Regions from separate parts of the Homo sapiens genome. Here regions 1, 3, 4, 5 and 6 are each reported to be linked to region 2. The links are microRNA targets in miRTarBase. Many come from high-throughput screens and were not tested one by one. Region 2 holds a microRNA gene; each other region holds the end of a gene's coding sequence.
Evidence for each region. The annotated mature microRNA hsa-miR-4477b reads AUUAAGGACAUUUGUGAUUGAU and lies in region 2 at 2,559-2,580, shown strand. An mRNA with a match to its seed (bases 2 to 7 or 8) in the 3' UTR can be bound and repressed. Matches are read on the target gene's strand: a 7mer-m8 pairs with bases 2 to 8, a 7mer-A1 pairs with bases 2 to 7 and ends in A, and an 8mer does both.

Region 1 (5,412 bases), not on the chromosome of region 2:
AGGCTGGTCTCAAACTCTTGGGCTCAAGCGATCCTAAAGTGCTGGGATTACAGATGTGAGCCACTGCGCCTGGCCAAAATTAATTTTTTAATAAAACAAAATTGCTCTTTAGTCTTTCTGGCCACACTCCTAATTACCAAAAGTGGCCTGCGGCTTAAAGGGCTTGGTAATGACAAGTATTTCAAATATTTGAAAACAGCTTTATCATATATTTGCACCTAAACTTTCATTTACATTAATAGGTGAGTAAATTTTCCTCCTACATTTTGAAGGACAATCTGCAGTCTTTGCTTTCTAAAGGATCCATTCAGAAACTAAAGATTTATTTGACCTTATAAAAAGATAAATAGGCTTTTTCTTCTCCTCACTTCTCATCCACCCTCAGAGAGTGGCCCATACTGTCTTCCATGCCCAGTCAACAGTGACTTCCAAACACAGGTCAGCCTCTCCCCTCCTCCTCTAGTAAATCTTGTTACCACCCTTAACACAGTTCCTGCTGTCCTCATGCTTTTTAACACACCATATACATGTTAAGAACTATCTTAGACCATACAAGCCATGCAACTCTTTTCTCCACCCCCTTTCTCCTTTTCCCTCCTGGTAGAAAATTTCATTTTTCCTATTGGTAAACAATTAATTCATAGGACAATGTCACTAGGGAAATATCAAAGTAATAAGCGACTTCCAAACCCAGAATCAGAATCACCTGGGAGCATGTTAGGCACTCAGATTAAGGTACCCTCTTTTTAGGTCTGTGGTGGGATTCGTGTGGTTCTCAAACCTGGCTGAACAACTGAATCATCATAGAGCTTCTAATACTGTAATGCCTAAGCACCCCTGCCAGAGAAGTTTTCACTGAGGAACAGAGAGGGCACCCAGTATCTTACATCTTTGTTTAAAGTTCCCATTTAGGAACCATTGCTAAGGCAGTTTCATACAGCTTAACTAAAAAAAGCTGAAGTGGTCAACATACAACATAAAGCCTCACTTCTCAACGTGTGGCCTCAGGACCAGGAATTGATATCATGAAGTGGGAACAATGAATTCCCTGTACATTTAAACAAAATCCCCTCATGATTCTTAGGCACATCAATTTAAGAACCAATCAGTTAGGATCAGGCACGGTGGCTCACACCTGTAATCCTAGCACTTTGGGAGTCCGATGCAGGTGGACTGCCTGAGCTCAGGAGTTTGACCCCAGCCTGGGCAACATGGTGAAACTGTCTCTACTAAAATACAAAAATCAGCCGGGCGTGGTGGTGCATGCCTATAGTCCCAGCTATTCTGGAGGCTAAGGCATGAGCATTCCTCATGGGAACATGGGAGGCAGAGGTTGCAGTAAGCCAAGATTGTGCCATTGCACTCCAGCCTGGATGACAGAGCAAAACTCTGTCTCCCACACCTCCACACAAAAACAATCAATCACCTAGGTCAGTGCTAGGTGAACTTTCTGTGATGATGGAAAAGTTCATCGATATTATTCAGTGTGGTAACCACTAGCCACATGTGGCTCAAGAGTATTTAAAATATGCCGGTGAGACTGAGGGAATACATTTTTTATTTAATTAAATATAAATAGTCAGATATGGCTAGTAGCTACTGTATTGTACAGGGCAGATCCAGATAATTTATACTGGTCAGAGGACATACATTTACAGATACAAATCTATGGCTGCAAAAGGAAATCCACAGGAGTCACTGCCTACAGAACTGTCTTCTCCTCTTAATGAAGACAAAAGCCAGGTGTTAAAAAGAATCCATTTATTGGGTTTTAAACTAGTTACACAACTGAAATCAGTTTGGCACTACTTTATACAGGGATTACGCCTGTGTATGCCGACACTTAAATACTGTACCAGGACCACTGCTGTGCTTAGGTCTGTATTCAGTCATTCAGCATGTAGATACTAAAAATATACTGTAGTGTTCCTTTAAGGAAGACTGTACAGGGTGTGTTGCAAGATGACATTCACCAATTTGTGAATTATTTCAACCCAGAAGATACCTTTCACTCTATAAACTTGTCATAGGCAAACATGTGGTGTTAGCATTGAGAGATGCACACAAAAATGTTACATAAAAGTTCAGACATTCTAATGATAAGTGAACTGAAAAAAAAAAAACCCCACATCTCAGTTTTTGTAACAAGATAAAGAAAATAATTTAAAAACACAAAAAATGGCATTCAGTGGGTACAAAGCCCAAAATCACTATAATAAAGAACTACACGTGAATCTTTACAAATTACACAATGATGTTGTGTAAAAGGTTGCATCTGTACAATGTCTTGCCAATGCTATCTCTACAGTTTATACACTCTTTTACATTTATATAACATATTAAACAAATCAATTAAATATTAAGCCTTATTAGTCTCTCAACGATTCTGCAGGCAAAATAAAAAGGGAGAGAGAATAAAATAAATTAAAAAATTACAAAATTTCCACAAACACAGCAGTCTTCCATTTAGGTGAAGTATAATAATTTTCAGAGGGTCAAAAAATAGTTGTAAAGAATACAGGGAAAAAACAGCCAGTCAGGGTTTTTATTGTTGTTGCTGTTTATTTTTAAAATCACACATTGAATACACACAACAATCAGATTTCTTCACCAAACCCCCAATTTTTTAGCAACTGGCTCTATTCAGCACCAAAAACTCCAGTCTGTGGGAAGTGCACAGACACAGACTTCACTTCTGTGTCTTGGTCGAGCAATCCATCAGGTCATTGGTTAGGTTCAGGACTTGCCCTCTTTTCCTTCCCTCTTCATGGCTCTCCAGACCCAAGGTTCTCAAGGCTTCAGATTTATGGCCCACAGCCCCTATTACCACCTAAATCCAGCAGCCATTTGGGAAGAATTCAAAATAATTTGAGATGAATGAAATGACAGGACCTGTATTACAGATGGGTATTCTCCATTCCAAGTAAACTGTTTCTTAATGAGTTCTGAGACTCTGGTCTTGGATGCCATGATCATACTGGGTAATTATTTCTAGTCTGAGACTTTGTGACTTTGTCAGATGCCTCAAAAAAAAAAAGTGATCAGTATTCTGGAAACACTTCCGGACAAGTTGGGAAATCAAATGGCAACTGAGAAGCTGTGGAATGCAGACTAACGAGATCTAACACAGAAACCACCAAAATGATGAGAGCTCAGCAGAGGCAGTTTTAAAACTTGCAGAGAGCCACCACAGATGGTACCTGAGGGTGTGGAATTTTTGATGAAAAGAGCCTGAAGTGAGGACTAGTCATCTGTATCAGGGAGGAAAAAATTTCAATTAGGTAACAAGACATCCAACTCTAAAAGCCTAATAAATGAAATTTTTATTCTTCCTATTCCAGTAGAAAGGCTTCTGGGTACTCCCTCTTTAACAGAATGGGTGTAAGAATCCAGATCAAGTTCTCACAACTTTTAGAACCCAGAGTCCTCAGGGCCACACAAAATGTCCCAGCCCCACCCAGGAGGCAACCAAGAATAAGATGTATTTTCCTTTATCTAACTATTCCCAGGCTGACACCACTCATCTACAAAGGTCCAAAAGCAGTCACACATTTTCTCTGCTTTAAACCTAAAGCAAGGAGGCACAGCAAAATTCTCATTTCCAATGGCCGTAGCAAAAGCCATGTTTAAAAACAAACAATCCCCGCCATCCAACTTTATCTAAACACTGACATCTAAGAATGTCAGCAAAAAGAAAAAAAACAATAAATATCTAGTTCTCAGTCACCAAACCAATGTAAATTCAGAACTTTGCTGACTTACCTTTCTATGCATAATAGCATGGTGACACAAGAAGATCGGTGAGAACAAGCAGTTGGTCATCAGTGAATTGCTGTTTATGTTCCTGCCAGTTGTCATGGTGAGTCCTTCGGAAATTGGATAAGGTTTTTTTTACAGTCATCTGTAAAGTAGACAACCCACATACGTTTTAACCTCTCTGGACAACCAGGATCATATGTAGGATACTTTTAGTTAAATTACCGTCCCTCTAGACTTCAGATCTCACACAATACCAAGTTCTACAAAACCAAAAAGCCAATGAGAAGGACAAAGTGAATGGTCTTTTGAGTTACTAAAAATGCCATCATAATTTCCTATTTAATATTAGCTTCCAGTAAAATACTTTGCAGTGCTAGAAAAATAGAAACATAAAATTTATCACAACAATATTGACAGTACTTTACTTCCATTGGACTGGGAGGGATAGAAGCTACAATAATTTCCTCACTACCAAAAGATCTCAAATATCCATGGCAGCAAGGTCTCTGTAATTTTTTAATAATTACTGGTGAGCAGACTAAGCCTTGGCAGAGGCAGCAGCTTTATGAAAGCAGTTAGTTCAGAGTGTATAGGAAATTATTATTATGGTTTCTTAGAAAACATCACTGATAATACACGTACAAACTAATAAGGAAGAACTGTACCTCAATAGGCTGAGGATCATTTAGATGTGCACTGAGATTCATGAGGAGCTGGGGCATCCAGGTGGGAACATCGTAAGGACTAGAAAGAACACATGCACCAAGTCCTAGCACCCCAGCATGGCGTTTGACCAACTCTGCAAAGAGAATAGCAACATTTGTGCAAATATATATATGTCTCTAATGCACTTGTTACAGTGAGATAAAATTAGTTTTCAATTGTGTTGTTTTCAATATGTGAATTTCTGCATTTAAAATGAATCTACATGTAAACACATCAAATACTTGATTTTGAGGCTAAACTAAAAATAATTCTGTATTTAAGAATTTGTCAGCTGGGCACAGTGGCTCATACCTGTAATCCCAGCACTTTGGGAGGCCAAGGTAGGAGGATCACTTGAGGCCAGGAATTTGAGACCAGCCAGGGCAATAAAGTGAGAACCTGTCTCTCCAAAAATAATTTTTAAAAATCAGCTGGTGGCCAGGCATGGTGGTTCATGCCTATAATCCCAGCACACTGAGAGACCAGGGCGGGTGGATGACCTGAGGTCAGGAGTTCAAGAACAGCTTGGCCAACGTGGCGAAACCCTGTCTCTGCTAAAAATACAAAAATTAGCTGGGTGTGATGGCATGTGAAGTCACAGATACCCAGAAGCTGAGGCATGAGAATCATTTGACCAGGGAAGCAGAGGCTGCAGTGAGCCAAGATCGCACCACTGTACTCCAGCCTGGGATACAGAGTGAGGCTCCGTCTCAAGGAAAAAAAAAAAAAAAAAAAAGCTAGGCATGGCAGTGCATGCCTGTGGTTCCAGCTAGACAAGAGGCTGAGGCAGGAGGATCGCTTGAGCCTGGGAGGTCAAGGCTGCAGTGAGCCATATTCAAAACCACTGCACTCCAAGGAGGGCGATAGAGGAAGACCTTACCTCAAAAAAAAAAAAAAAAAAAAAGGATTTTTAAAGACTTCCATAGTTGCTTATCAATGACAGCATAA
Region 2 (5,412 bases):
TTCCTCCCTTTCTCCCTCCCTCCCTCTTTCTCTCCCTTCCGGGGTCCCTCCTTCCACCCATCCTTGCCTAGCTCCATCCTTCCATCTCACTCTGTCTCTGTTCCTGTCCTCATCTCTGCCTGCCTTCCCTCTTGCCTGGAAAGGGCAGCACCCTGGTTTGCGCGAGGTCTCGGGTCTTTATTTAGTTGTAAGGCGCTCTATGGTGCTGGCGAGGAGGCTGGCGGGACACGGGTTGGCAAGTGATGGTGAGCGAAGAGGCGGAGGAGTTGAGCCACAGAAAGGAGAACTGGCCTGGATTCTGCCCCGGCCCAGTGTTTCGCGGACTGAGGTCTCCGCCAACCCGATTGAAGAACGCGGGGGGGAAAGGGAGGAGAGCTCCGCCTGGGCTAGTTAGAAGACTAGGCTGCTGCCTGGAAACCCGCGCATGCGCAGTAGACAGCCCACCTCCCTGTACCTGGACCGGCCCTGGGATCCCCGGGATGCTCAGGAATGCTTTCTTTTCATTGTTGACAGCCCTACTCTGTGTGGAGTCTCTCGCTGGACCTGGAACTCAGGGATCCTAGGGAGGTCAGCTGGAAGGGAAGACACGCCTCTCCATACCAAGCCTGAGGTTCACTGCAAAAGAGAGGCCGCCGCCCTGCCCCCACCCTGCCCCCACCCTGCCCCAAACCCGCCCCAACCTGCTCCTCCAGCAGAGCCCTGTGTTCTTCCTGTCTGAGGAGTGGTTCCAGCAAAGCGGGCTCTTCCACGTCCTTCAGCTCCCCCAGTGGCGCCGGATCTAGGAAAGGTTGTGCCTTTTGCTGAAACTCTGGGGTTGACAGGAGCTCATCTAACAGGCTGGAGGTGAGTGCAGACGAGAGCCCCGGCTCCTGGAGCGGTTGGGAGGTGCCCGGTTGGCTGGCATCTGCGCTTGACGCGGAGGCCTCCGGGGTCACGAGCTCGGGAGGTGAAGGTGCCCCGTCTTCGGGTTCCCATGCCGCCCTGGCGACCTGGGGCTCCAGCCCCACCACGGACTCCGGTGGGACGTGGGTGGTGCAAGCACACCTTTCCCCTGTGACTCAGCTTGAGGGGCCCCAAGCTGTCCCACTGAGCACGCGCCCAGCAGGCCGTCGCGCTGTGGGTTCTGGTCTTCCTGTCATTTGTTGGGGTTCGGAGGCCACCAGGGAGTCTGAGGATGGGAGAGCCCCAGTTTCGGAGGGAGGGGCCAGGACAGTGAACACAAAGCCCCGCATGCTCGGGCAGGTTGGGAGAGTCCTTCTGCCTGTGCAGCCTGGCTGGGCTGGAGCAGGGGGATGACCCTTGCTTCCTGGCTCACGAAAGCCCCCTGTGGGAGAGCCCCAGGAGCGCAGGGCATGTGGGGTGCAGGAAGCGACGTTCCCCACGCCCCGGTGTAGGTGAACCCGATAGAGGAGGGAGGAGGGTGACACCCACCAGGGGTGCTAATTAGTAACCACAGTGGCCTCAAAGAACTCAAATGAAAGGAAGACTTGCAAGTCTCTCACTTTAAGTCCAGAGCTAGAAATGATTAAGCTTAGTGAAGATGTAGAATTTTCATAGCTAGAGAGAAGTCAACACTTGGCTTCAGAACTTCAAAGGATGGGCTGACTCTCTTTGAGGACCACTGCAGCTGGTGACTTTAGGTTACAGCCAGTGCTCATTGACCACTCTGAAAATCTCAGGGCCCTTAAGAATTATGCAAAATCTATTCTTTCTGTGCTCTAGAAATGGAACATCACTGTCTGGGTGACAGCACATCTGTTAATAGCATGGTTTACTGAATATTTTAATCCCACTATTGAGACCTACTGCTCAGAAAAAAAAAAAAAACGATTCTTTTAAAAAGATTGTTGGTTGGCCAGGCATAGTGGCTCATACTTGTAATCCCTGCACTTTGGGAGGCTGAGGATCACCTGAGGTCAGGAGTTCAAGACCAGCCTGGCCAAAATGATGAAACCCCATCTCTAATAAAAATACAAAAAAAATTAGCCAGGCATGGTGGTAGTACCTGTAATTTCAGCTACTCGGGAGGCTGAGGCAGAAGAATGGCTTGAACCCTGGAGGCAGAGGTTGCAGTGAGCCGAGACCGCACCACTGTACTCCAGCCTGGGCAACAAGAGTGAAACTACGTCAAAAAAAAAAAAAAAAAAAAAAAAAAAAAAAAAAAAAAAGAAAAAGAAAAGAAAGAAAAGAAAGAAAAAGAAAAAATCAAAGGAAAGAAAAGGAAAAAAGAAAAAAAGATTGCTGCTTATTGACAATTCACCTAGCTCCCCAGAAGCTTAGATGGAGATGTACTTGGAAATTAATGTTATTTTCATGGCTGCTAGTACAATATTTACCTTCAGCCTGTGGATCAAGGAGTGGTTTTGACTTTCAAGTGTTTTTATTAATTAATAATTGCATTTTGTAAAGGTATAGCTGTCATAGATAGTGATTTCTTTGATGAATCTGGATAAACTGAATTGAAAACCTTTTGGAAAGGATTCACCATTAATCCTTTCATGATATTTGAACCTCCTCCCGTGAATCACAAATGTCCTTAATAGCAATCCTTAAATGCCATTAAGGACATTTGTGATTGATGGGAGGAGGATGAAATATTAACATTAACAGGAGTTTGGAAGAAGTTGATTCCAGCCCTCATGGATGACTTTGAGGGCTCAGGATGTCAGTGGAGGAAGTCCCTGCAGATGTGGTAGAAATCACAAGACAACTAGAATTAGAATTAGGGCCTTAAGGTGAGATGAAATTGCTGTAAACTCATGATGAAACTTGAACAAATAGGGAGTTGCTTCTTATGGACGAGCAAAGAAAATATTTTCTTGAGATGGAATATAATCCAGGTGGAGATGCTATCAACATTGTTGAAATGACAACAAAGGATTTAGAATATTCCATAAACCTAGTTGATAAAGCAGCAGCAGGGTTTGAGAGGGTTTACTCCAATTTTGAAAGAAGTTCTACTGTTGATAAAATGCTGTCAAACAGCATCACATGCTACAGGGAAATCTTTTGTGAAAGGAACAAACTTCATTGTTTTAAAAAATTGACACAGGTTTCCAACCTTCAGCAGCCCCCACGCTGATTAGCCAGCAGTCATCAATATAGAGGCAAGACTCTCACCAGCAAAAAGATTATGACGTGGTAAGTCTCAGATATTCATTAGCATTTTTTAGCTCTGACGTATTTTAACTTAAGGTATGTACACAGTTTTTTAGACATGCTATTAATTAATAACTAATAATTATTAAATACTCATTAGACTACAATATAGTTTAAGCATAACTTTTATAAGCACCGGGAAATAAAATGTTTATGCAACTAACTTGATTGTAACATTTGCCTTATTGAAGTGTTCTGGAACAAAACTTACACTATCTCTGAGGTGTGCTTGTAGGTTTTTGTTTGTAACATTTGCCTTACTGCAGTTGTCTGGAACCAAACCCACAATATCTCTGAGTATGCTTCTAGGTTTTTGGTTGTTCTTTGTTTTGAGATGGGGTTTCGCTCTGTCGCCTAGGCCAGAGTGCAGTGGCATGATCATAGCTCACTGCAGCCTCAAACTGCTGGGTCAAGTGATTTTTCTACCACAGCCTCCTGAGTAGCTTGGACTACAGGCATGCAGCACTATGCCTAGCTATTTTTTTTTAAATACTTTTTTTGTAGAGACGGGATCTCACTATGTTGCCCACCTGGTCTTGAACTCTGGGGCTCAGGCAATCCAGCCACTTCAGCCTCCCAAAATGCAGACATTACAGGCTTGAGCAACTGCACCCAGCTTGTCTGCAGTTCTTAAAACAAAACGGCCAGGTGCGGTGTGTGACGCCTGTAATCCCAGCACTTTGGGAGGCCAAGGCGGGTGAATCACAAGGTCAGGAGTTCAAGACCAGCCTGGCCAAGATGGTGAACGCAGTCTCTACTAAAAATACAAAAATTAGCCAGGCACAGTGGCGGGCACCTGTAGTTCCAGCTACTCGGGAGGCCGAGGCAGGAGACTCGCTTGAACCCGGGAGGCGGAGGTTGCAGTAAGCCGAGATCGTGCCACTGCACTCCTGCCTTGCGACAGAGCAAGACTCCATCAAAAAAAAATGTAATTTAAAAGATTAAAAGTTAAGATAGATTTTTACAAATGTATATATCTACCATTATAGTATCATACAGAATGGTTTTACTGCCGTGAAGATTCTCTGTGCTCTGTGTATCCATCTCTTCCTTCCCCTTGGTCCATGGCAACCACTGATCTTTCTACTGATCCCATAGTTTCACCGTTTCCAGAACGTCATATAATTGGAATCGAACAGTACGTAGACTTTTCGGATTGGCTTCTTCTTTTAGCAATATGCATTTAAGTTTCCTCCATGTATTTTTTTGTGGCTTGATAGTTCATCTCCTGTTAGCAGTGAATAATATCCCGTTGCCATTATACTTTTGTCAAGACTCAGAACGTACAACGTGAAGAGTAAACGTGAATGTGCACTGTAAGCTTTGAGTGATAATGAAGGATCAAGGTAGGTTCCTGGTTGTCACAGGTGTGCTCCTGTGAGGCAGGAAGCTGTAGTGGGGAGGCTGTGTGTGGGGAAAGGGACATATGAGAAGTCTGTACTCTCTGCTACGTTTAGCTGTGAACCTGCACTTCTCTAAAAAATAAAATTAGTTAAAATTAAAAGCAAAAAATTAGAAAAATTAAAACATTACAATGTGTTATATAGTTTTCAAATCACAAGACAGAAAAAGACATAATAAAAGAAACTATAGAAAACAACAAGGATAGGAATAAAACATCAGTGATAGAAGGCAGAAGACAGAAATGTGGAGCCAAACACATTAATTTATTTTAATCATTAGTTATACTCATTTATACTAATTTATATTGATTTAACATATTAATTCTGACTAAATGGCATTAAAGGAGGTCTGAGGAATTTGCATGTCACATTCTGGATGACAGGACTCAATAATATTAACTCTTTAGTTGGCTGTAAATCATTTAAAAATATGCTCAAATTCCAATAAAAATTCCAAGAAAAATATTTTCGAACAAGAACATGTGATTTTAAATCCATATATTGAACACACACATACAATGAGAGCCATTATTATAAAATTTACTATAAGATATTTAAGATTATTATCACTATCCAAAATTAAACAAATTTGAAATGGCACAAAAATAAACACATTAATGAAAGAGAATTAAAAACACAGAAATTGAGTGTAATTTTATCTAGTAACAGGGTAACATTTTAAACCCACAAAACAGAGCGATTGTTCCATTTGTGGTATTAAAATATTGGGTAATGATTTCAGAATATAAAATGACAGAATTGAATCATGGTCCTACACCTTACATAAAAGTTAATTCCAGTATTAAATGTAAAAAAAAAAGAGAGAGAAAAAAGAAAATTAGATGTGTGT
Region 3 (5,412 bases), not on the chromosome of region 2:
CCAGAAGGTGAACTAGGCAAAGAAATAGAGGGAAAATACAATGCAGGTGAAGATGTACAGGTAAAGACTTAGAGAAGGATTATTTTTGAAAACCATTTTATAAAAACTTTGACCTCAACTAGTTAACATAAAATACTACATATGGAATGTGGTTTAAAAATACTGCTAAAATGTTGAAAATGATCTCTCAGGCAGGTTTTCCATAAAACCCTTAGAGACTCATTATCAAAGAAAGTATCAAAGTTCATTTTTGCTACATCAGCATTACTCTCAAACCCAAATTTGTTTTGAAGCTCTGCACCTGACTTTTTTTTTTTTTTTGAGACGGAGTCTCCCTCTGTCACCCAGGCTGGAGTGCAGTGGCGTGATCTCGGCTCATTGCAACCTCCGCGTCCCAGGTTCAAGCGATTCTCCCCTCAGCCTCCTGAGTAGCTGGGATTGCAGGCGCGTGCCACCACATCTGGCTAATTTTTGTATTTTTAGTAAAGATTGGGTTTCAGCATGTTGGCCAAGCTGGTTTTGAACTCCTGACCTCAGGTGATCCCCCAACCTTGGCCTCCCAAAAGTGCTGGGATTACAGGCCTGAGCAAGGCGCCCAGCCCTGAGCTATTCTTACAGGTAAGAAATGATGCTAGTGGAATGTTAAAGAGTGAAGGAGATTTACTGTCTTCGTTACAACTTTCAGAAATGTAACGGGTAGTAAGTGTTCAAACATTTATAGTTATTTTTCCTGTTCCCTGGAAGTTGTCTTACAAACCACTCTGAGAAATTCTGCTTTAGAAAACTGTAAAGAAAGTAGCTTGTTTTGGAATACCCCTTTCAGAAGTCCATATGTACAAAATATCCACAAATATACAATATATGAGGAACTAATTATATCTTCTATATGTATTGTCTTCTGAATAACGTTTTGCCTGCTTTTTTCCTTCTAGGTGTCTGTCATGTGTGCAATGAGTGAAGAATATGCTGTAGCCATAAAACCCTGCAAATAAACGGAAACATCAGGCATGAACACTGTTTATGTCTGAATCAACTGCAGATCTAATTTGGTTCTAAGTTGTCACCAAAGCTATAGCCTTCATAAGCAACCTCATTTCTTTTTTTAATTGTTTTCAGATTGTGCTGGGTTAGTTTTGCAAGCAATTGATAATTTTTAAAAAATTATCAATATGTATAATTTTTTTTGAATTTTGTAGATATGTTTCCTATAATATTCCTGTGGTTTTCAGTATGTCAGTCCAAGAAACAAACAAGATAGCTTCAGCAGATGTGATTTGTCTGAGCAAATCATTCCTGTGTTTTAGTTAGATGATAAACCAGGGTTTTAAATCAAACAATGTAGCATAAAGTGGTATTGAAGTACCATATTTAAGTTGAACTGCTCTGCATTAATTACAGATTTAATATAAAATGAACTGATTATATATTGGAATTGTTGCACTTTCAGCCTGTGTAGGGCAAACACAAATCCTTAAACAAAAATCATGTTATCAAAAACTGTCAGTTATTTTGGTGGCCACATGCAACCATGTGATTACTTTGGTCATACTATTTACCAAATTGTTGGCAAACTTGATGTAACCTTATATGGTGGTTTTAGTCCCTTCTTATGGTTGGCAGAAGGGCACTGAACTGTTGGGTGAAAGTTAGTTAGCAAGTAAGATTATAAGGAAGACACAAAAGACAGTGGCAAAGAGGGTTGATTAAATCTATAAGTTTTTATGTGAGGACTTTGTAAGTCAGCATAAAAATGAAAAGTTGTTTCTCAGTTGTTTTTGCTTTTAACTTTGCCCCCAACGTTTAAAGGGAGTGATCTGCTTTACATGATACTATGCAATGCTTGTTTTCCAACTATGTTGAATAAATAGTAATATTTATCAGTAAATACTCCTTTCCAACTTCCTTTTTTTTTTTTTTTTTTTTGAGACTGAGTCTCACTCCATCAGCCAGGCTGGAGTGCAGTGGTGCAATCTCGGCTCACTGCAACCTCTGCCTCCCGAGTTCAAGCAATTCTCCTGCCTCAGCCTCCCAAGTAGCTGGGACTACAGGTGCATGCCACCACGCCCAGCTACTTTTTTGTGTATTTTAGTAGAGATGGGGTTTCACCATGTTGTCTAGGCTGGTCTTGAACTCCTGACCTCAGGTGATCCACCTGCCTCAGCCTCCCAAAGTGCTGGGATTACAGGCATGAGCCACCACACCCAGCCCCTTTCCAACCATTTCTAAGTAGATTTTTTGACATTAATGTATTTATTAAACAAAAACTGAGAATTCCTTAAATTGATTTGGAATTTTTGTTAATTTTATGTCCTTTTTTTCCTAAAGTGAATTAAAGTGAATCATGGAAGCAGCATTACTTTATATGAATATTATTATTTAAGTTAAGTTATTTTAAGTATATGCATTTTTTCTGATTGTTGTGTGACTTAATTCAGTTGCTGGTGTGAACTATAACTAGCAAATAATTCTATAAACTGAATTATTTTAAAAGGTATTTTAGGTGACACCACTGCATTTCTATTTCATCTTTTGAGTCATATGTATATTATTTCCAGAATTTTAGACATTATTACAGGGTTTGTGAGGACCTTTGACTCAGTGACAATCATCATATTGGAGCAAAACATAGAACAAAATCACTATCTCAGAAATACCTTAATTCTCTAAGACTGGCTCTTAGACCTCTCCCATCATGCCTTGACCTCTAAAAAGCCCTTTGTTCCTATCTTCTAAAGGAAAGTATATCATATATGATGATGTAACTGATCTAATCAGTGACTGGAAATAGCATTAGTAACAGAAGATCCCAAGTTTTAGTTGCTTAATTTGTACACACTTTTAAATATTGTCTTAGCCTCGGCAAACCAATTTGGGGAAGAAGCAAGATACTTTAAGAGAAATACAAAGGAAATTTCTAAAGCACAAGAAATAGTGAGGTAGTAGTTAGTCGTCTTTCCTACAACATTTTAGCTTTTGCCCATCTAAAGCACAATTAAAATTAGGCTACATTCTTTCCAGTATTCTATTTAAGTACCTACTACATACTGCTCTAGTTTCTTAGTACTCTGTAATGTGTATCTTAATTGCTACTGGTTGGCATTGTAACTCATAGGAATTCCAGAAAATTATTAATCCGTGCTGCTTGCAGTTCATTCATATGGCCCCTCTTAACCATGCTGGTGTTATGATTCAGTATTAACTCTCAATTAGCATGCCCCTGTTCTTCCTAACTTGTAAAATTTCACATAAATATATTTTCAATTGTGTACAAATTAAGGGTGTACAAATTATAATAATGCATCTCTATCTTCATACTTTGAATGGCAAACGCTATTTATGCATAAATATTTTCATTTTAAGTAATATATGAAGTGTAAATACTCGATATATAAGTATAGATTTTAAAGATATGGGACTTTATTTTCACATAAGTCAATAGATGTTTCTCTAGAACAAAATATTTAGTAAAGCTTTATAAATTATATTAAAAGGAAGCGGGGAACATGTATTTTTTAACATAGAACAGAAGTGACTTCATTCTTTTTAGACATCAGAAATGTTAAAGTTGATTCCCAATATTTGTTGTACTTTTTTGTAGCAAATGTTAAAAATCACGAGTTACCATGTATAGAATGTGGACTGTCATGTTGATATCATTGTACAGTGATAAGCCATTTTTATCTGTATACATTTCACCAATTTATTAACAGGTTGAATATTTGTTTCTTTTTAGAACATTTTATTTATACTGTGAAGACTTTGTTATACCTTATTTGCTACAACATAGATCATATCATTGCTACTTTGACTTAGCATTTGCATCATAAACATAATTATGATGTTTTTTTCATGCTCCCTTCCAGGGGCTCAGTCACTTGAAGAAACTGTTGCTAACCAAGCTCTTGACTCTGTTTCCCTTAATGATACAAGTCTCTGTACCAGCGCTTTATGTTAATTACCAAAACTCTCCTGCATCAGAGCATGATATCTATAATAGGAGATACTGCAATAAAATGATTAGGCTGTAAAATTTGGAGACACAATTTTTCATTACAATGCAATTTGCATGTGCACATGTGCGCACATAACTTTATATGTTAGTTCTTTTTTCCAAACTCCCAACTCTTAAAAGTATTGTAGTCTGTTGGTGCCTCAACTGTTGGTAACTTTTTTTTTTTAAATTTACAACTTTCCACAACTTGTTTTTGTACTTTAAGGTTTCTCAATTAGAATATTTCTAGTTGAGCTGTAATTTGAATGCATTGTTCTCAGGGCTATTTGTGCTAAAAGCTGAAATTTCATTATTTTAAAGCTAATTGCCTGAAAATATATTGGCAGAATTTTCCCAAATTGTAATAACTGTGATACATGCATATAAAAAAATCCTTAATGTCAACACACTTAAACTACATGCTAAATAGTCAAGAAAAAAATGGAAACAGTAGCATCCATACTGGAATCTTGCCATATTTTTTTCATTTTAGAATAGATTTTGGCAGTCTCATCTTAGAATCCTATCCTTAGGATACATCTGAAAGCATTCCTTTGGCATGGACCCCAGAGATAGTTTTGGAGCCAGGCATTGATGTAGAGGTTCACCAAACATATTTAGGGATAATAGATAAATTCATAATGCTTTTTTGGGTACACTGAAATGTTTACATACTGAATTCTGTAATATGAACTAGGAACGCATTTACTATGAGAAAATATGGCTCTTAAGCAGTGTAAGAGTGAAAATATAAGCATATTTCCATTAACAGTATATTGTACTGATCAGCAGCTCTCATTTTAACATCAGTTAGGCATAATATTTCATAGTTTTCAAGCCTTTTTTTTCTGCTAACATTCAGACAAGTAACAGGCAACAAAGATTTAAGAAAAATTTATGGTGGAAAACCTTAAAAATTGAGACAATTCAATCTATTTAATCTATTAAATTTTTTCTCTGAATTGGGTATATGGCATCATTATTTGATTTTAGCAGGGAACATTTGGATTTAGCTTATGAAACACAGATGTTCTATGGGAACATGGCTTGAAGCCAATATGTAATTTAATGTTTTTCCATTAAACAAACATCTGAACACCAACTTAGCTACCAAGTGAGGTCAAGTGCCTGAAAAGTACTGTATACATCTAATAAGCATGTTTTCCTTATGTAAAAGATGCACTTTATGGCAATGCATACCAGGCTTTCACCTGCTAGAAACATACTTGTTGCCAACTTTGCCATCTACCACTATTCTCCTCCTTAGAACAGGTAGAAACCTATTTTACAAAAAAAAAAAAAAAAAAAAAAAGACAGGTTATTGTATTTATATGAAGTCCCTAAAACTGTTTCTTGGTATTGATAGACTTAAGTTTATCTTAGTTCAAGATTGCACTTTTTAAAAAACTCTGGACTATTTT
Region 4 (5,412 bases), not on the chromosome of region 2:
AGTTCCTCCCTCAAAGGCTGTTATGAGGTCTAAATGAGACATAATGCATGTAGCGCAGCAAGCTTAAGATAGTCTTGGCCTCTAGCAAGGGCTCAGGAAGGGATCCCTCTTTATTGTTATAATAATCATTATTATCATTGCTATGATGGCTTCTAGTTCTACCTCTATTCCCTATTACTGTTACTCTTCAATTACTGCTGCTAATACTAATTGGTAATGATAATAACAATTATGGCTACACAGGGCCAGACTCTGGGACCATACCTGTCTCAGTCTCAGATAAGAGGATCTATTATACGGTGGTAATTTAGGAATAAAACAGGGGAAGGCTTGACAGCTGATTTAAGTCACAGTCATTTGTCATTTCCTGCTTCTCTTTGCACTCACTGTGACTACAGAAGCCACATGAGAGTCCGCTTGAAGGAGGCTTCCTGTCACTCCTTGTAAACTCACACCAGATGTGTGCCTTTTACATTGGCTGCCTTGGGCCAGGGTTCACCCTAGGGCAGGAAGTTGGCCGGCTGTGTCCACTTTACACCATGCCCCAAAGCCTGCAAACAGCTGCGCTAGAAGGACTATAACCCTCAGCACCTCCTGGACCTGTGTTTGGATTAAGTGGCTCTTCACCCTTATTTGCCATCCTGAGAGAAATCTGACATATAGGTGTCATATTTTATTCATAATGTACTAATTATTGTTCCTATACAAATGAATACTCTATAGTCCACCAGTTCCCAGAGCAGCAGTTCTAAAAGCAAAGAAATTAGAATCAAAGAAGTACCTCATATTGCTGTATTCCTTAGGTTGCCTTATTGATGTGAATAATTGTGTTTCATTTATCTATTACTATGTAACAAATCACTCTAAACCTTAATGGCTTAAAACAATTTACTGTTTCTCATGATTTTGTGGATTGAGCTGGTGGTTCCTTTGCTGTTCTCACGTGGGTCACTAAGTGATTGCATCCAGCAGGCACGGTGACTGAGGCCGGGTTCAGCAGGGATGTCTGGCATGGCTGGGACTCTCTCTTGACATGTTATTTTCATTCCAAGCTTCTTCACAGTATGGCAATCTCAGGGTCGCCTTCCAAGAGAGGGAAAACAGAAGCTGCAAGCCTCTTGTGTATGGCAGAGCATCATTTCCATGGCATTCTGTCAGCCACAGCAAATCACAAGGCCAGCCCTAATTCAAGGAGAAGACAAACAGACTCCTCTTGATGGGAGGGGTGGCAATGTCACATTGCAAATGAGCATGGGAGGAATTGCTGTGGTGTTTTGTTGCGGTCTTCGAAACCAATCCTAATACAAATTTTGAAAATACATTCTATTAAAAAGCTGCACCGTCATTGATCATGCAGATGCTTCACTTTTCCACTAAGATGAGGTCTACATTGTTAAAAATAGTTCAGTACAAATACTTCATGGGGCTAATTTGGAAGCATTCTTGACATAAGATATTGAATATTTAGCTTCTTCAAAGATAAAGAGATTTGGCTTGCTGGGGCAGCCTGTAAATGTGTGCGTGCTTGGAGTGTCCACATGGAAAGAATCACTCATTTATTCATGCCTGCATGCATTCATTTATCCATGTATTTGGACATACATTCCTATGCAAAGCTCTAAGCTAGGTACTGGAATAGAGCAAATACTCAGATTAATTAAACCAATAGAATCATTTTATATCCTGTGATTTTTTTTTAGTTTGTGTGTGTGTTTTTAACTCAGCTACTTATTTTTTCAAGCATGAGCTCTTTCTTTTCCATATGAACTTCTATTAAGAAGTTGTATCTAATGAAATGCAAAAATAAATATAGCTCATAGTATACTTCACATGTAGACACTGGAGACATGCTTTTTCTTAAACTTACACTTAAAGCAATATTAGATATGGATAAAAAAGCCTGAGATTGAGTAAGACATTAGATAGGCTACAGAGCCATGATAGTTTCATGACCAGAGCATCCAATGACAGCCCACACAAATCTTGGGCACTTTGGGATTTCTCTGGTGGCAGGTACAAATTTGAGCACCATTCATTCATTATTTGTTTATTTATCCAGAAAATATTTATTGTGTTTTCACTATGGGTTAGGCCTGTTCCAGGTGAGAGATACTGGAGTCAAAAAAAAAAATAGTTCTTATCCTCATATAACCTAAATTCTAGATAGAGAAAATTGAGAACAACAACAACAAAAAAAAATACGCAGTCTCTCAGGTGGTGATAAACAGTATGGAAAAAAATAAAGCAGAGTTTAAGGAATGAGGGGAAACTATCAAAAGAGATGGAGAGGGGATGGACAGTGAGGTAAGAAGAAAATCAAGATGAAATGGTGTCCCATTGTGTGGAAAATATTTCAAGAGGAGTGACAATTGTTTCAAATGCTTAGGAGAGGTCAGGTAAGCTGAGGACTGAGGACTGGACATTGTGTTTGACCATGTGGAGGTCATGGAGTGGTGATGAGAAAAGCCAAATTAGTTTAAGTTCCAGAGAGGATGAGAGACAAGAAAAGGGAAACCAAAAATACAGAAAACTCCTCTGTAGATGTTTTGCTGAAAAGGGGTGTTGAGGAATGGGGTAGATATTGGAGTGAGATGAGGGCCACAGGAGAGAATTTTATATGATAGGAAATATGACAGCATGTTGGTGCTGATAGGGATGCCCCAGGACAATGGGTAAACTGATGATGTAGAAGAGAAGGGCACTTGCTGAAATGATGTCCTTGAGTAATTGAGATGGATGGGTTCTTCTAGACCAGATTTAAAAATTCATGTCATTAGACATGTTGAGTGTATACCCAGAATATATATGCATCTATTCTTAAGTTTTATTTATATTCTACAGCAGTAGCATGTTTCATATATTTCAAAGCACATATAAAAATATAATCAGATGCTTTGTAGAAGAAAATATAAGAATAGAAACCCCAGCATTTTCTCCAAATATCCCATAGTCTTAAAACACATACTCCGTAAAGTGCATACATTTAACTTTGGAGTTCTTACCTTTAAACAATGTCACTGTTTGGCACTGATTTACCTAAAAGCAGTTGGAAGAAAAGAACTCGATTTTTCGAACTTGAGAATCTGAGTTTTCCCCGTTTTGATTTCTATCTAGGAAGCGTTTTGCCTTAACCAACCCTTTACAAAGAGTAATAATTTGAAAATGTAACCAACTTGAAATGATTTAGGTAAAAGGTCTAATTCATAAGCAGGTTCTTCAAATGTTCCTAGAGGTTACTTTTGTCACACATAATGTCACAAAAATGCAAAAAGTACTCAGAAAGGAGAACAACTGCATTTCAATTTTTATTTGTTGCCATTGGGTCACTTTTTTGGACCATAAGTCATTCCCAGAGCTTTCTCTGAATCCATGAATGAAGGACAAAAGTATACATCCCATCGCTGGTATACAACAATAACTTTGACCACATGATAGGAGAAGTGAGAAATGTAGCCAATTTTTTCCTGTAGTTTCCATGTAAACATATGGCAGTTTACACAGAAACTACAGAAAGTACAGAAACCTAAAATGAAAACTAAAATTTGTTCCCAGGTTGAAAAGAGGAAAGAGTTTCAGTGATAGCCACTAAAGCCACAGAAGACTTTATTCTCTGGAAGATGTTTTTGCTAATTATAAGGCTGAAATTACTGGCACAGACTTTTTTTGCAATTGGCTGATATAATATAATAAAACAATGGTGTCGAGCGGAACCACTGTGAAAGTTTTTAAGGTGGTCAAAGGAATCATTCCTGTAGTTCCAGTGTAATCCCAGTTGCAGATTAACATTGTCAGGTATGTCAGAGATACCTGAAGTACAGTCATCACATTCACAGTGTGTGGATCCCCATCTCGAAGGGACACAATGCTCCTAAATCAGTCTCTCCATTGCAGGGGGTGGCATCAAGTTCCACATTTCCACTCGGGAGCCCTCCTTCTCCTGACGGCTGGGGCTGTAGGTTCCCTGAGTTGCCCTTTTGTTGGAGGTGACAACAGAAGCAACAATGGCCAGCAAGAGGATCAGTAACAAGGCGACAGTCACTGAGCCAATAGTGGTGAAAATGTCGGAGATCAAGTCATCTGCCAACTGGAAAGATTGAAATCATTGGGATGCGAATTCTATAGCAAAGGCAAATAAATATTCAGGACAATGGAACTACTCAGGAATGAAGACCAACCAGAGCAAGCTGGTACCACTCAGTACTGTAAAAAGACCAAGGTATTAAAAGAAAGTCAGATTTTCTTATTCTCAAATCATTTACAAATAATCATATATCTAGAATCTAAAGTCTACAGTCAGAAAATATGGCATGAAATACCTACTATATTTGCTCAGTCTCTTAATCTCAGTGACTGAGATGATTCATGTAGCAACAAAGGCAAAAGATGAGCCCACACTTATATTTATAAAATGATTCTAGATCTATAGCCACGTATTATTCATGATCTCTTTCCTCCCTTGCCAAAAGTTCTAATTTGGGACTGAAGAAATGGTTATTTTACAGTTTTGTTTTGTTGCTTTGGGAAAGGAAAGAAATTAAATTAGTTGGGTCTTGTGGGAAAAATTCTTGACACAGAGGAGGGACTGTGATACGCTGGTCTCGCAGGGGGTTTCCAAAGGAATCACTCTGATTCGGATTCAACATGGCAATTGAATGGTTGTAAAGGCACATGTGCTTAACGCTGAATCCAAGTATCTAGCAGCAGACAACGGCAGGTAGAGCCCTGTCAAAGGGAGCTGGATCCTGGGCTCTCAAAGTTGTTATTTTTACACAGTGGTTTGATTAATGTTAATTCCGATGTGTTTGCAAACACTTTTTAGCAAACCTGAGCTCTTATCAGTTTAACAATGGCTAACATGAAACTGTGACTGAGTTGCACAGAAATATTAAAGACAGAAAGGAGTTACTGTTTGAATTTTTAAACTGATTTTTTCAAAGACATATTTCTATCAGAGTAAATCAGTAGTAAACTCTTTTACCTTCTTATTTAGCTTTCTCTAGGACTCATCCCCACGTTACCAAACCAATCTATTACAAATGAAATCTGTGTTTAACATCCTAGAGAGTTTAAATATCTTTTCTATCCTTAGTCTCTTTTTATTGTCCCCTGTGTCTTGGTTTAAATTATTATACAATTAATATAATATTTTAACAGCTTCATAGTATTGTCTGGGATCTACTCACAATAATCCTTGCTCAAATGTGGTTCATTAGTTTGTGCATTCAATCAGCAATACTTATTGACCATTTACTATGAGCATTTACTGAGCTAGGAAATGAAAATACAAAGACAAATAAAAGTTTGGAATCTGGAGCTCAAATTCTGGAGATAGGAGAAGAGGAAGACGCGCACACACACACACACACACACACACACACACACACAAATAATCATAATACATTACAGATAGGT
Region 5 (5,412 bases), not on the chromosome of region 2:
AAAAATGTCCTATCTGTCAAAATAGCTGCTTAGCAGAAGCAGTGGCCTTTAACCTCTCAAATCCTACTCAAGTCTTAAGGGAAATTAGTCTAATGGTCTTTATTGATAGTATTCTCTACTGAACCATGTTCCACTTCACAAATAGAAAATACAAAGTGATCAGCCATTTCTTTCTAATTTAGCCCCAGAGGTGGATTCTCTCTCACCTCCAAAGAAAATAGTATCTTATTGGTTGAGGATGATGTCATACCTATAAGAGTACGAAATAATTTGCTTCTGAAGTATAAACAAGAATTACATCAGGATCTGTTTAGTGGAAAAGTCAGCTACAAAAACACATGCACAGTACGATCCCAATTTTTGTGGGTGTCTATTTATATACAAATAAAAGAATAGGAATGATCATCTCTGGATAGTGGGATTTCAGGTGACTTTAATTTTTGTCTCTGTATTTTTTAACACTTTCAAAATTTTCACAATCAGCATATGCTATAATCAGAAAAATAATCATTTTTGTTACAGATTTATTATCAGAGTAGATCCTTTCATATAAAGGAATTTTGTCATTCCCAAAGAAAATTCCAACATCTTGTTGCAGTATATTGCTTATGGAGAAGAGTGAGTGGTATGTGTCCTCTTTTTCACTGCAGGTTCTCCCCAGGATATAGCAGCCGTAAGAAGCCAAGCAGCCCTCCAGAGCATGCGAACGTCACGGCTGATGGCACAGAACGCAGGCATGATGGGAATAGGACCCTCCCAGAACCCTGGGACGATGGCCACCGCAGCTGCGCAGTCGGAGATGGGACTGGCCCCTTATAGCACCACGCCTACCAGCCAACCAGGAATGTACAATATGAGCACAGGCATGACCCAAATGTTGCAGCATCCAAACCAAAGTGGCATGAGCATCACACATAACCAAGCCCAGGGACCGAGGCAACCTGCCTCTGGGCAGGGGGTTGGAATGGTGAGTGGCTTTGGTCAGAGCATGCTGGTGAACTCAGCCATTACCCAGCAACATCCACAGATGAAAGGGCCAGTAGGCCAGGCCTTGCCTAGGCCCCAAGCCCCTCCAAGGCTGCAGAGCCTTATGGGAACAGTCCAGCAAGGAGCACAAAGCTGGCAACAGAGGAGCTTGCAGGGCATGCCTGGGAGGACTAGTGGAGAATTGGGACCATTCAACAATGGCGCCAGCTACCCTCTTCAAGCTGGGCAGCCGAGACTGACCAAGCAGCACTTCCCACAGGGACTGAGCCAGTCAGTCGTGGATGCTAACACGGGCACAGTGAGGACCCTCAACCCAGCTGCCATGGGTCGGCAGATGATGCCATCGCTCCCGGGGCAGCAAGGCACCAGCCAGGCGAGGCCAATGGTCATGTCTGGCCTGAGCCAGGGAGTCCCAGGCATGCCAGCGTTCAGCCAGCCCCCAGCACAGCAGCAGATACCCAGTGGCAGCTTTGCTCCAAGCAGCCAGAGCCAAGCCTATGAGCGGAATGCCCCTCAGGACGTGTCATACAATTACAGTGGCGACGGAGCTGGGGGTTCCTTCCCTGGCCTCCCGGACGGTGCAGACCTTGTGGACTCCATCATCAAAGGCGGGCCAGGGGACGAGTGGATGCAGGAGCTTGATGAATTGTTTGGTAACCCCTAATCAAGAGAGGCCCCAAGATCCACAACTCGAGTGGTTAAAGCTTAAAAAGTGAAAAAGAAACAGGATGTTGACCCATCCTTGTTTTTTGTTTTTTTGACCCACGTAAACTGAGCAAAACTGCAGCTGGCTGACAATGGAAGATCCAGGTGCCAATCCACAGCCCCACCAGGCCTCATTTCACCTGATTTTCACACAGCAATCGAGATGAGACGCCATGCAGATCCCGGCTGCGAGAGAGGGAGACACCCGGAGGAGCAGGTGGGAAGATGAAGCCGGCCAGAGCCCCTCTGCCCAGCATGCCCTGTGATCGCCTGGCCCAGCAGGAGCTGCTTCAGCCGAGAGGGACTATTACCCAAGAGAGGTATCCTCAGCCCCTCCTGCCCCAGGTCGGGAGACAGCAGCTTTGGAGACACAAAAGAGACAGAGCCTCAGCCAGGGAGAGTGAGTCCCCCAGAAGAGGCTGGGTGGTTGCACAGGCCAGGTGCACAGGTTGGAAATGCACTGAACTCTGGGTGCCGAGAGATGTAAGGCTTTGAGACATGCTACTGAATTTGGAGGGCAGGCACGAAGAACAGTGAGATTGTCAAAAGGAGACAACCACAGATCCTACAGGACTGTCTGTCTCCTGCCCCATGATGACCCTCAGGAATTGCAAAGGCTCTGCTGTCACAAGGAGAGCAGGCTGAGTTTGGAGCAGGGTCCATCCGGCAGTCCTGGGACGGCTTCCCTCTGCTGGTGCCCCTGGTGGCAGTCCCTCCAGGTGGGGCTGGAGCCTGCTGGCGCCCAATACAAAACCCATACATCCAGGTGGGTCACATCTACTTCTGGCGGCCGCAGGGCAGGGAAACCCCTACTGGACCCTGTGTGTCTGCCAGCCTGGAGCCTTTGTCTCCAGCCCTGCCTTTATTCCTCCTTGCCTCCACACCAGCCTCCCCTTGCTTCTCCTTACAGACTATCCAAGAAGTGAAGCTTATGTCTTTAGGGAGCCTTGGGCAGAGTCCACATAAATGCAGGAAGAACTTAGACAATGCCTGAAATGCAAAGGCGACACTGGAGTCTTCTTTCTCTAACGTGTAGCGTTGAATGAATATCTGCCTGGAACCAAGAGGGCTGCTCTGATGTTTGGGAGTCGGTTTTTTGTGAGCCACATCTGATATTTCTGATATCCCCAGGAAGGAGTGGCCTGGAGGTCACTGGTTCAGGCTCCCTTTGGGCGAAATCCTGGGAGTGATGCTCTAAAAATCCACCTTTCCCATCATCCCTACTCATCAGAAAGACAAATATAAAATCCCAGAGAGGTGGAGGAGCTAAAAAAGCAATTGCTCCACCTTACAAATTTGGATAGAAAGGAGATGTAGTTTATTTCATATGGGCAAAGTAGTCCTCTTCCAAAGTCCTGTACAGTTGTTCTCTGCAATTGACGCACATCTGCCCTAAGCGAAATCTGTCAGAAGGAATCAACAAGGCTCCTTGCCTCCCCTCCCAATCCCCCTTTTGGAGGACTTGTGGCTTCGGTGTCGTCCTAAGTGAGAGTGGCGTGTGCTTTTTTCCTGTCCCCTCCTCCCTCCGTGTCCTAGACGCTGGCTGCCTTCTGTGCACTCCCAGGCAGATCACTACGGAAGAGTCGGAGCCTGTGGGGTTGGACTGGCCACACTCAGTCCTGAGAAGGCGAGTTGCCATGGAAAGCTGGGGGCAGAGGTGTTTTTGGAGAGGAGGCGGCAGGCAAACATTGCCTTTGACTTGCTCTCCGCGTACCCGGGGTTGTAGAGCTGCTCAGGAAGGGGCAGGATGTAAGGCCAGAGGTGCCTGGTGGGTGAGAAGCCCAGGCAGGGGCTGGGCGCCCTCTCCGAAGAGGTGGCAGCAGGGTGACCCTGAACTCCCCAAATGGGGAGTGATGCCACTGGGGAAACTGAGTGGATCAAAGAGATGAAACCAAAAAAAAGCAAACAAACAAATGAGAAGACACAAAACATAATTACCTTTTCCTGAAAGGTACAGGAAATAAATATATAAGCAATGATGAGAAACTGGAGGTGGCTAATGGAAGTGAGACAGACAGGGGTGGGGGGCTCCATTATCTTTTAAAAGCTTCCTCCAAATGCTCAGTACTGGGACCAACTAATAGGTAGATTTTAATATGGTGGTTTTGTTTTGGTTTTGTTTTTACTACGGTGCTGATGTATATGTAATGTCTAAAAAAAGTTATTTGTACATAAGTTTTTACAATACTGCAGATATCACTGGGTCTACTATCTGTAAAAAATATACATATAAATATATATATACTGTTTGTTTAAAATAGAGTATTTTTATTTCATTCCTTAACTCATCATCACAGCAGTGGTATTGCACTTCAGATGACATCTAATTACTAATTTGTACTGTATGACCTCTGGCAACTTGCTCCATTTTATTCAGATTTTTCTAGTTTTCTGTTTTTACTTTGTACATTGAGCATTGCTTATTTCCTTTTAAGAAATGTACAGAACGCTGAAATGTAGAAATGAAGTGATGTTGACATACCACTTTTAAAGAAAACAAAAACAAAAATAAAAGATTATCTGAATCAATCCAAAGTATAGTTTATTTTAAGATCCTCACTGGAGCTCCAATCTTAATTAAGCAGACATATTATTCCTGGGTTTTAATTAACTGCAGTTCTTTTCTCAAAATTTTGATATCATTCTTTAAACATTTATTTAATGGGAGAGATCAATCATTCCCAGCCTTTGCATTCAACTGCACAACTGATGATACTTTCTGAATTTACTGCCGCACTCTGAAGGATGTGGCAAAGGGAAGGGAGGAAAGTCAACTTTGCATGGAACATAGTGCAATCCATTTGTAGATTCAGTACCATAACAATTCCATTTCCAACTAGTTCATCTGGAGGTAGGGAGGCTCCACTGGAAAAATAAATATTTTTGTCAAAAAAAGAAAAATCGGAATATATTGAGGGGAAGTAATAAAGGTTCTTGTTCCACTGTAGTGAGCACTGTCAGTAAACAGCCTCCACCACCCCACTCCTACCAGGCCACTTCTTTGCATCTCAAACCATGGCCTGGCTTCACCTGCACCCACAGAATTGAAAGTGCTTAGAAGTTTATACCCCTCTGGATTGACTTTAGCCAGTGACTCACTGGTGCAGGAGTATAAAAGCCCAGTTGACTTGTCTGAACAAACTCAGATATAATTTTGCTCCAGAGCTCTACTGCAAGATCAGGCAAAGGCTGGGACTTGGTTTAAAGGTGCCCCCCAGACCGGGCACTGTAGCTTACACCTGCAATCCCACCCAGCACTTTGGGAGGGCAAGGCAAGCGGATCACTTGAGCCCAGGAGTTTTGTCAGAGGCGTGTGAACCAGAGCAACTCCATGTTAAATAGGAGCTGGGTAAAATGAGACTGAAACCTACTGGGCTGCATTCCCAGACGGTTAAGGCATTCTAAGTCACAGGATGAGATAGGAGTTCAGCACAAAATACACGGCATAAAGACCTTGCTGATAAAACAGTTTGCAGTAAAGGAGCCAGCCAAAGCCCACCAAAACCAAAATAGCGACGAGGGTGACCTCTGGTCGTCCTCACTGCCACACTCCCACCAGTGCCATGACAGTTTACAAATGCCATGGCAAGGTCAGGAAGTTACCCTATATGGTCTAAAAAGGGGAGGCATGAATAATGCACCCCTTGTTTAGCATATCATCAAGAGATAACCATAAAAATGGACAACCAGCAGCCCTCGGGGCTGCTCTATGGAGTAGCC
Region 6 (5,257 bases), not on the chromosome of region 2:
CTTGAGGTGATCCACCGGCTTCGGCCTCCCAGAATGCTGGGATTACAGGCATTAGCCACTGTGCCCAGCCCACTTTTAAAATTTAAGAAATGAGAATATCCATGTTTAATTTTAATGAGAGAAGCCTTAGATGTTTCTAATGTGTCATCTTTTTTTGGATATTATAACACAACTTTTTCCTTGTGACTTACCAGCTGATTGTTACGGTAACCAAGTATCAAGAGATAACGTTATGAAATAATTGTCTGGAAAATGTCGTGTGACTTTCTAATTTTCTTTTCTCAGATTCATAGTGACCACTTAGTAGCTAGTGAGAAACAGCATATGCTCCAGTGGGACAACTTCATGAAGGAGCAACCCAACAAAAGGGCTGAAGTGGATGAAGAGCACAGAAAAGCCATGGAAAGGCTTAAAGAACAATATGCTGAGATGGAGAAGGACCTAGCGAAATTTTCAACCTTTTAAGAACTTGAACCACAACAATCACAAACTAATGAGAAGATGTTCACCTCTCTCCTGAAAACTATTCCCACCAGACCGTTTAGCCTCTGCTTCAAGCTTAGCAATATATTCAGTGGCACTCTTATATCAGAAGAAAGAAGTTTCTACTGGCATTCTGATTGGATATTTAAAGAAGGGTGCCACATTTTTCCAGCTTTAAGTGCCTATATATGATTATTTGAATGAAGAGGAGTAGGAAGGAAAATGGAATCAATATACTCTTTGTTAGTCAGAATTGATCATCTTTTCCATTGATTAGCTCAGAGAACTGTAGGTATAGACTTCTTAGAAAGATAATTTCATTCATTTCTATACAGGGTTAACAATAGTTTATTATTGTGGCTTAATGGGAAGGTATAGAAGCTACCTGTCATAGCCTCCTTGGCTGTTGGAAGGATGTATAAAGTGTTACTGCATGAGTAATGTAGACAAAAAAAAAAGCCAGCTGTCCTTGGAGCAGAGATCACATTTCAGAGAGGTGAGAGTGAACACATTGTCTCTGCTGTGGCAAAGATGGCCACGCTGGTGTTTGAGCTGCCTCTTGGGAAGCGTTGCATATTTTACAGTGCAGCATAATGCCATGGGCTTCCGTGGATGGGAAGACACATGTTAAGTTTTGTGGCCTTCCAGCACTTACTATTTTCAGCTTTTTAAAGCATGCTTAGAAGGAAAAGCTTACCAAAAATATATTTTGACATTTAGTTTTTCCAAGAGCTATAATCTTGCCCATAGTATTTACCTCATTTTTGTGTCTGTTTTGCTGTGGGTAAGCTTTATAAGATAAATAATGTCTATACATGTTTCGACTGTTTAATGAGTAATCAACAAAATCTGCCAGAGAGTCCCTCTGGAACCATATAAAGTTCCTGGCTTTGAATGAACCAGAAGTGTTTGCCCACACAGCAAATGGTCCATGTTAAATGTAAATCCTTTTTAGTGTTAATGTCTGTTCTCATAAGCAGGTATATTATGATGAAACATGTACCAGTTCTGTCATCACTGTGATCTTTAAAAACCTGCATTTAACAGTCTAATTTGAGGCTGGGTGCAGTGGCTCACACCTGTAATCTCAACACTTTGGGAGGCCGAGGCAGGCGGATCATTTGAAGTCAGGAGTTCAAGCCTAGCCTGGCCAACATGGTGAAACCCCGTCTCTACTAAAAATACAAAAATTAGCCCGGCATGTTGGTGCACGCTTGTAATCCCAGCTACTCAGGAGTCTGAGGCACGAGAATCACCTGAACTCAGGAGGCGGAGGTTGCGGTGAGCTGAGATGGCACCACTGCACTCCAGCTTGGGTGACAGAGTGAGACTCCATCTCAACAAAAAAAAAATCTAACTGAAGAACTAAGTTGATTTTTTATTTGCCATAAACCAAGCAAAAGTAAATGCAATAATTTCGAGATTTATGGTAAACAAATTTGAGGTATGGATAAATCTTTCACATATTTTTTATTGCTCTTTAGTAAAGAAAGGCACAAGAAAGAAAATATCCAGCTCTCTTGTGTTATCTCAGTGTGGCGACTGCAGAAAATTGACAATGCCTGCCTGTGTAAATGTATGGCTTACTGTCAAAGCTTCATTCTTGGCTGCATGTTGAAAATGTGATTAAAGTTAATAGAGGAGATGAAATAAGTATTTGAGATTTTTTTCAATAACACTGAACTTCTGCCAACTTTCTCTATCCGCTACTGTAGGCTTGACAGGCTCATCAATCATTTGCTGGTACCTGGACTAAAAAGCGCACTTGCTGACACCAAGGCATGTTGGAATTTTCTTAATTCAGTGGATGGAAAAAGAAATACTTCCAAAAATATCCCACACATGAAAAGGGAGGGGAGCCTTAAATGAAAATTCCCTTTGTACCGTAGACACTTTTTGGAATGCGATTAATTGCCAACACATCATTGAACGAATGCTGTAACCAAGAAATTAAGATTGTGTGTGTGAAGGGAATATATTCTTAACTGTGGCTACCCAACTTGTATAGCAAAGATTTCTGATAGTTTGTGTTCATCTCATGTGAATAATAAATACTTTACCCTATAAGTTTGTTTATTATTCCATAAATACCTAAGGGACTTCCTAAACCAAAATGAATTGATGGGCTTTTTGAGCTTTAGACATTAAGATACTCAATTGTTTCTTGTAACATTTTTAACTATTCAACATAGCTTCTATAAGAGTTGGTTTATTTACCTTCCTTTTGATATTCGACATAGCTTCTATAAGAGTTGGTTTATTTACCTTCCTTTTGATATTTTTAGTGGTGAACGCTTTTGCTTCTGTTTCCTAGTTGCCAAATCACTTTTTATATATATTTTATTTATATGTAAAAAACAATTTTAATAACTACATAATTTGTAACATTTCTTTCCTTTTTTTTTTTTTTTTTTGCGCGACAGAGTCTCACTGTGTCACCCAGGCTGGAGTGCAGTGGCGCGATCTCGGCTCACTGCAAACTTTGCCTCCTGGGTTCAAGCAATTCTTGTTCCTCAGCCTCCTGAGTAGCTGATATTACAGGCATGTACAACCATGCCCAGCTAATTTTTATATTTTTAGTAGAGAAGGGGTTTCACCATGTTGGCCAGGCTGGTCTCGAACTCTTGACCTCAAGTGATCTGCCCACTTCAGCCTCCCAAAGTGCTGGGATTACAGGCATGAGCCACTGTGCCTAGCCAGTTTGTAACATTTCTGCTGTGTTTGTGCTGTTGAGCAGAGATATTGTGGGTTCTATGTAGCTCATAGGATTATTGCAATGATCAAATGAAATAATGTTTTATAATTTTAAAGCACCATAGAAAGATTTGTTAAGTTCTATGTATTTTTAATTTTTAATTATGATTTCTTTCTCGACTAACATATGTATGAGGCTTTTTTTTCCCATTTCCTAGCGTGTATATTTTTAAATTCTGTGTTTATTGATTCCTGTTTTAATTGAATTTGAATTGTGGACAGAAAATAGGTACATGTTAAGACTGATCTGTTAATATTTGTTGAGATTTGCTTTATGACCTAGATTATAACCTGTTTTTGTAAATGTTTCATGATTGCTTGAAAAGTATGCTTGTTTTTTAGTTGTTGGATGTCCATTAGACCAAAGTTGTTAATTTTGTAGTTCAAATTTTTTCCATTTTACTATTCTTTTGTCTTCTACTTGATCTCTCAGACTCTGAGATGTGTTGAAATTTTCTATTCTAGTGAACTTACCAATTTCTCCCTGTAATTCTGTCAATTTTAGTTTTATATATTTTTATATATTTTGAAGTCTTGTTATAAATAAATAATTATAAATATATACATAAATATAAAAATACATAAACTATATATTATATTTATATGGATTATGCCAGCTAGCTGGATTTATAGGATATATCTTTTTTCATCCTTCTGTTAAACCTTGCTGTTATGTTTTAGATATGCCCTTTAAAAACTGTGTGACTGGGGCCGGGGACGGTGGCTCACGCCTGTAATCCCAGCACTTTGGGAGGGCGAGGCGGGCAGATCACGAGGTCAGGAGATTGAGACCATCCTGGCCAACATGGTGAAATCCCATCTCTACTAAAAATACAAAAATTAGCTGGGCGTGGTGGTGTGCACCTGTAGTCCCAGCTACTCAGGAGGCTGAGGCAGGAGAATTGCTTGAGCCCAGGAGGCAGAGGTTGCAGTGAGCCGAGATTGCGCCACTGCACTCCAGCCTTGGTTACAGAGCGAGACTCTGTCTTAAAAAAAAAAAAAACTGTGTGGCTGGATGTTTTTCTTTCTTTCTGATCATTTGTCAACTAAGGAGTTCAATCCATTTACATTTGTCAAAGTTACTGATATATTAAGATTTATTTGTATCATCTTATTTTGTGCTTTTTGTCCCACCTTTTCTGTTTCTTGACTTCTTTCAGCTTGAGTTTGTTTTGTTTCATTTTTCCATCTACTTTTCTTCTGCTGCTTTCAAAGTTAAACATTTCCCAGTTTCCAAATCAGTTTTGATATGTATTTTATTTATATGTAAAAATTAACTTTTAATGAAGTGCTTAGTAGGAAATTTAACTTGCGTAGTTAACAGAATCTAAAATTAACATCTTTACTCTCTTCCTATTCTTTAGAGATTTTTGTACAAAGTCTGATTTATCTCTTCAACTTACAAATTGTTGTCTAGAATTCTAGTTCTATCTCGATTTTACTACAAAAGTAGTTATTTTGTATAGTCAGTGTTTATGTAGATTTACCTAGAAGTTTGCTATTTTATTATCCTTGAAAGTTAGCTAGGTATACGATTATAGGTTGACAGCTGTTTTCTCAAATAATATTCTACTGTCTTCTTGCTTCCATTGCTGCTTCTGAAATGACAGTTGTCAGTCTGATCAGTATTTGTAGCTAATCTGCCTTCTTTCTCAGGTCATATTTAAGATCTTTATCTTTGGTGTTCTACAGTCAAATGTGGCCATGCTACAGTATGTTTAGCTGTATATTTCTTTTCATTGTCCTGTTGGGATTGATTGAGATTCCTGAATCTGAGAATTGGTACTTTTCATAAATTCTGAAAAATTCCCAGCTACTGTCTCTTTGAATATTGTATCTCCCTCATTCTCTCTATTCTCTCCTTTAGGAAATAAAATTAAGACTTCTGTTTTATGATCTCACTGTCCTCTCCATATCTCTTAATCCCTGTTTTATATTTCCCATCTCTCTGTCTCTAGGTGTTGAATTCTGGATAATTTCTTTAAATCTATTTCATTAATACTGTCTTCACTCTATCTCT

Region 1: the mRNA of PSME4 is a reported target of hsa-miR-4477b. Seed matches in the 3' UTR shown: 8mer at 1,931-1,938.
Region 3: miRTarBase lists EIF5A2 as a target of hsa-miR-4477b. Seed matches in the 3' UTR shown: 8mer at 1,469-1,476, 8mer at 2,273-2,280, 7mer-m8 at 4,384-4,390 and 7mer-A1 at 4,900-4,906.
Region 4: miRTarBase lists CRB1 as a target of hsa-miR-4477b. Seed matches in the 3' UTR shown: 7mer-A1 at 3,725-3,731.
Region 5: the mRNA of MAML3 is a reported target of hsa-miR-4477b. Seed matches in the 3' UTR shown: 7mer-m8 at 3,970-3,976.
Region 6: the mRNA of BLOC1S5 is a reported target of hsa-miR-4477b. Seed matches in the 3' UTR shown: 7mer-A1 at 2,343-2,349.

What each region holds. Positions count from the first base shown.
Region 1 is chr2:53,862,323-53,867,734 of GRCh38, forward strand. It overlaps PSME4 (proteasome activator subunit 4), which reads right to left. Exons shown (of 47, transcript NM_014614.3): 45 at 4,425-4,558; 46 at 3,763-3,901; 47 at 1,747-3,251. The coding sequence ends at 3,767. Among named protein-coding and RNA genes, the nearest start is that of GPR75-ASB3, 5.1 kb to the left of the region's middle.
Region 2 is chr9:63,817,065-63,822,476 of GRCh38, forward strand. MIR4477B (microRNA 4477b) reads left to right here and starts at 2,510; the gene lies at 2,510-2,590. LINC00537 (long intergenic non-protein coding RNA 537) reads left to right here. Exons shown (of 2, transcript NR_146626.1): 2 at 514-1,965. It also overlaps the pseudogene DUX4L50. RefSeq lists enhancers at 568-1,106, 1,107-1,643.
Region 3 is chr3:170,888,940-170,894,351 of GRCh38, reverse strand. It overlaps EIF5A2 (eukaryotic translation initiation factor 5A2), which reads left to right. Exons shown (of 5, transcript NM_020390.6): 4 at 1-60; 5 at 933-5,412. The coding sequence ends at 992. Among named protein-coding and RNA genes, the nearest start is that of EIF5A2, 17 kb to the left of the region's middle.
Region 4 is chr1:197,476,336-197,481,747 of GRCh38, reverse strand. It overlaps CRB1 (crumbs cell polarity complex component 1), which reads right to left. Exons shown (of 12, transcript NM_201253.3): 12 at 3,293-4,084. The coding sequence ends at 3,869. Among named protein-coding and RNA genes, the nearest start is that of CRB1, 210 kb to the right of the region's middle.
Region 5 is chr4:139,715,562-139,720,973 of GRCh38, reverse strand. It overlaps MAML3 (mastermind like transcriptional coactivator 3), which reads left to right. Exons shown (of 5, transcript NM_018717.5): 5 at 651-4,221. The coding sequence ends at 1,651. It also overlaps a transcript of MGST2 not described here. Among named protein-coding and RNA genes, the nearest start is that of MGST2, 52 kb to the right of the region's middle.
Region 6 is chr6:8,010,857-8,016,113 of GRCh38, reverse strand. It overlaps BLOC1S5 (biogenesis of lysosomal organelles complex 1 subunit 5), which reads left to right. Exons shown (of 5, transcript NM_201280.3): 5 at 286-2,547. The coding sequence ends at 465. The region is part of intron 4 of BLOC1S5-TXNDC5 (BLOC1S5-TXNDC5 readthrough (NMD candidate)); the gene reads left to right. EEF1E1-BLOC1S5 (EEF1E1-BLOC1S5 readthrough (NMD candidate)) reads left to right here. Exons shown (of 7, transcript NR_037618.1): 7 at 286-2,547. Among named protein-coding and RNA genes, the nearest start is that of BLOC1S5, 51 kb to the left of the region's middle. RefSeq lists a silencer at 3,855-4,063.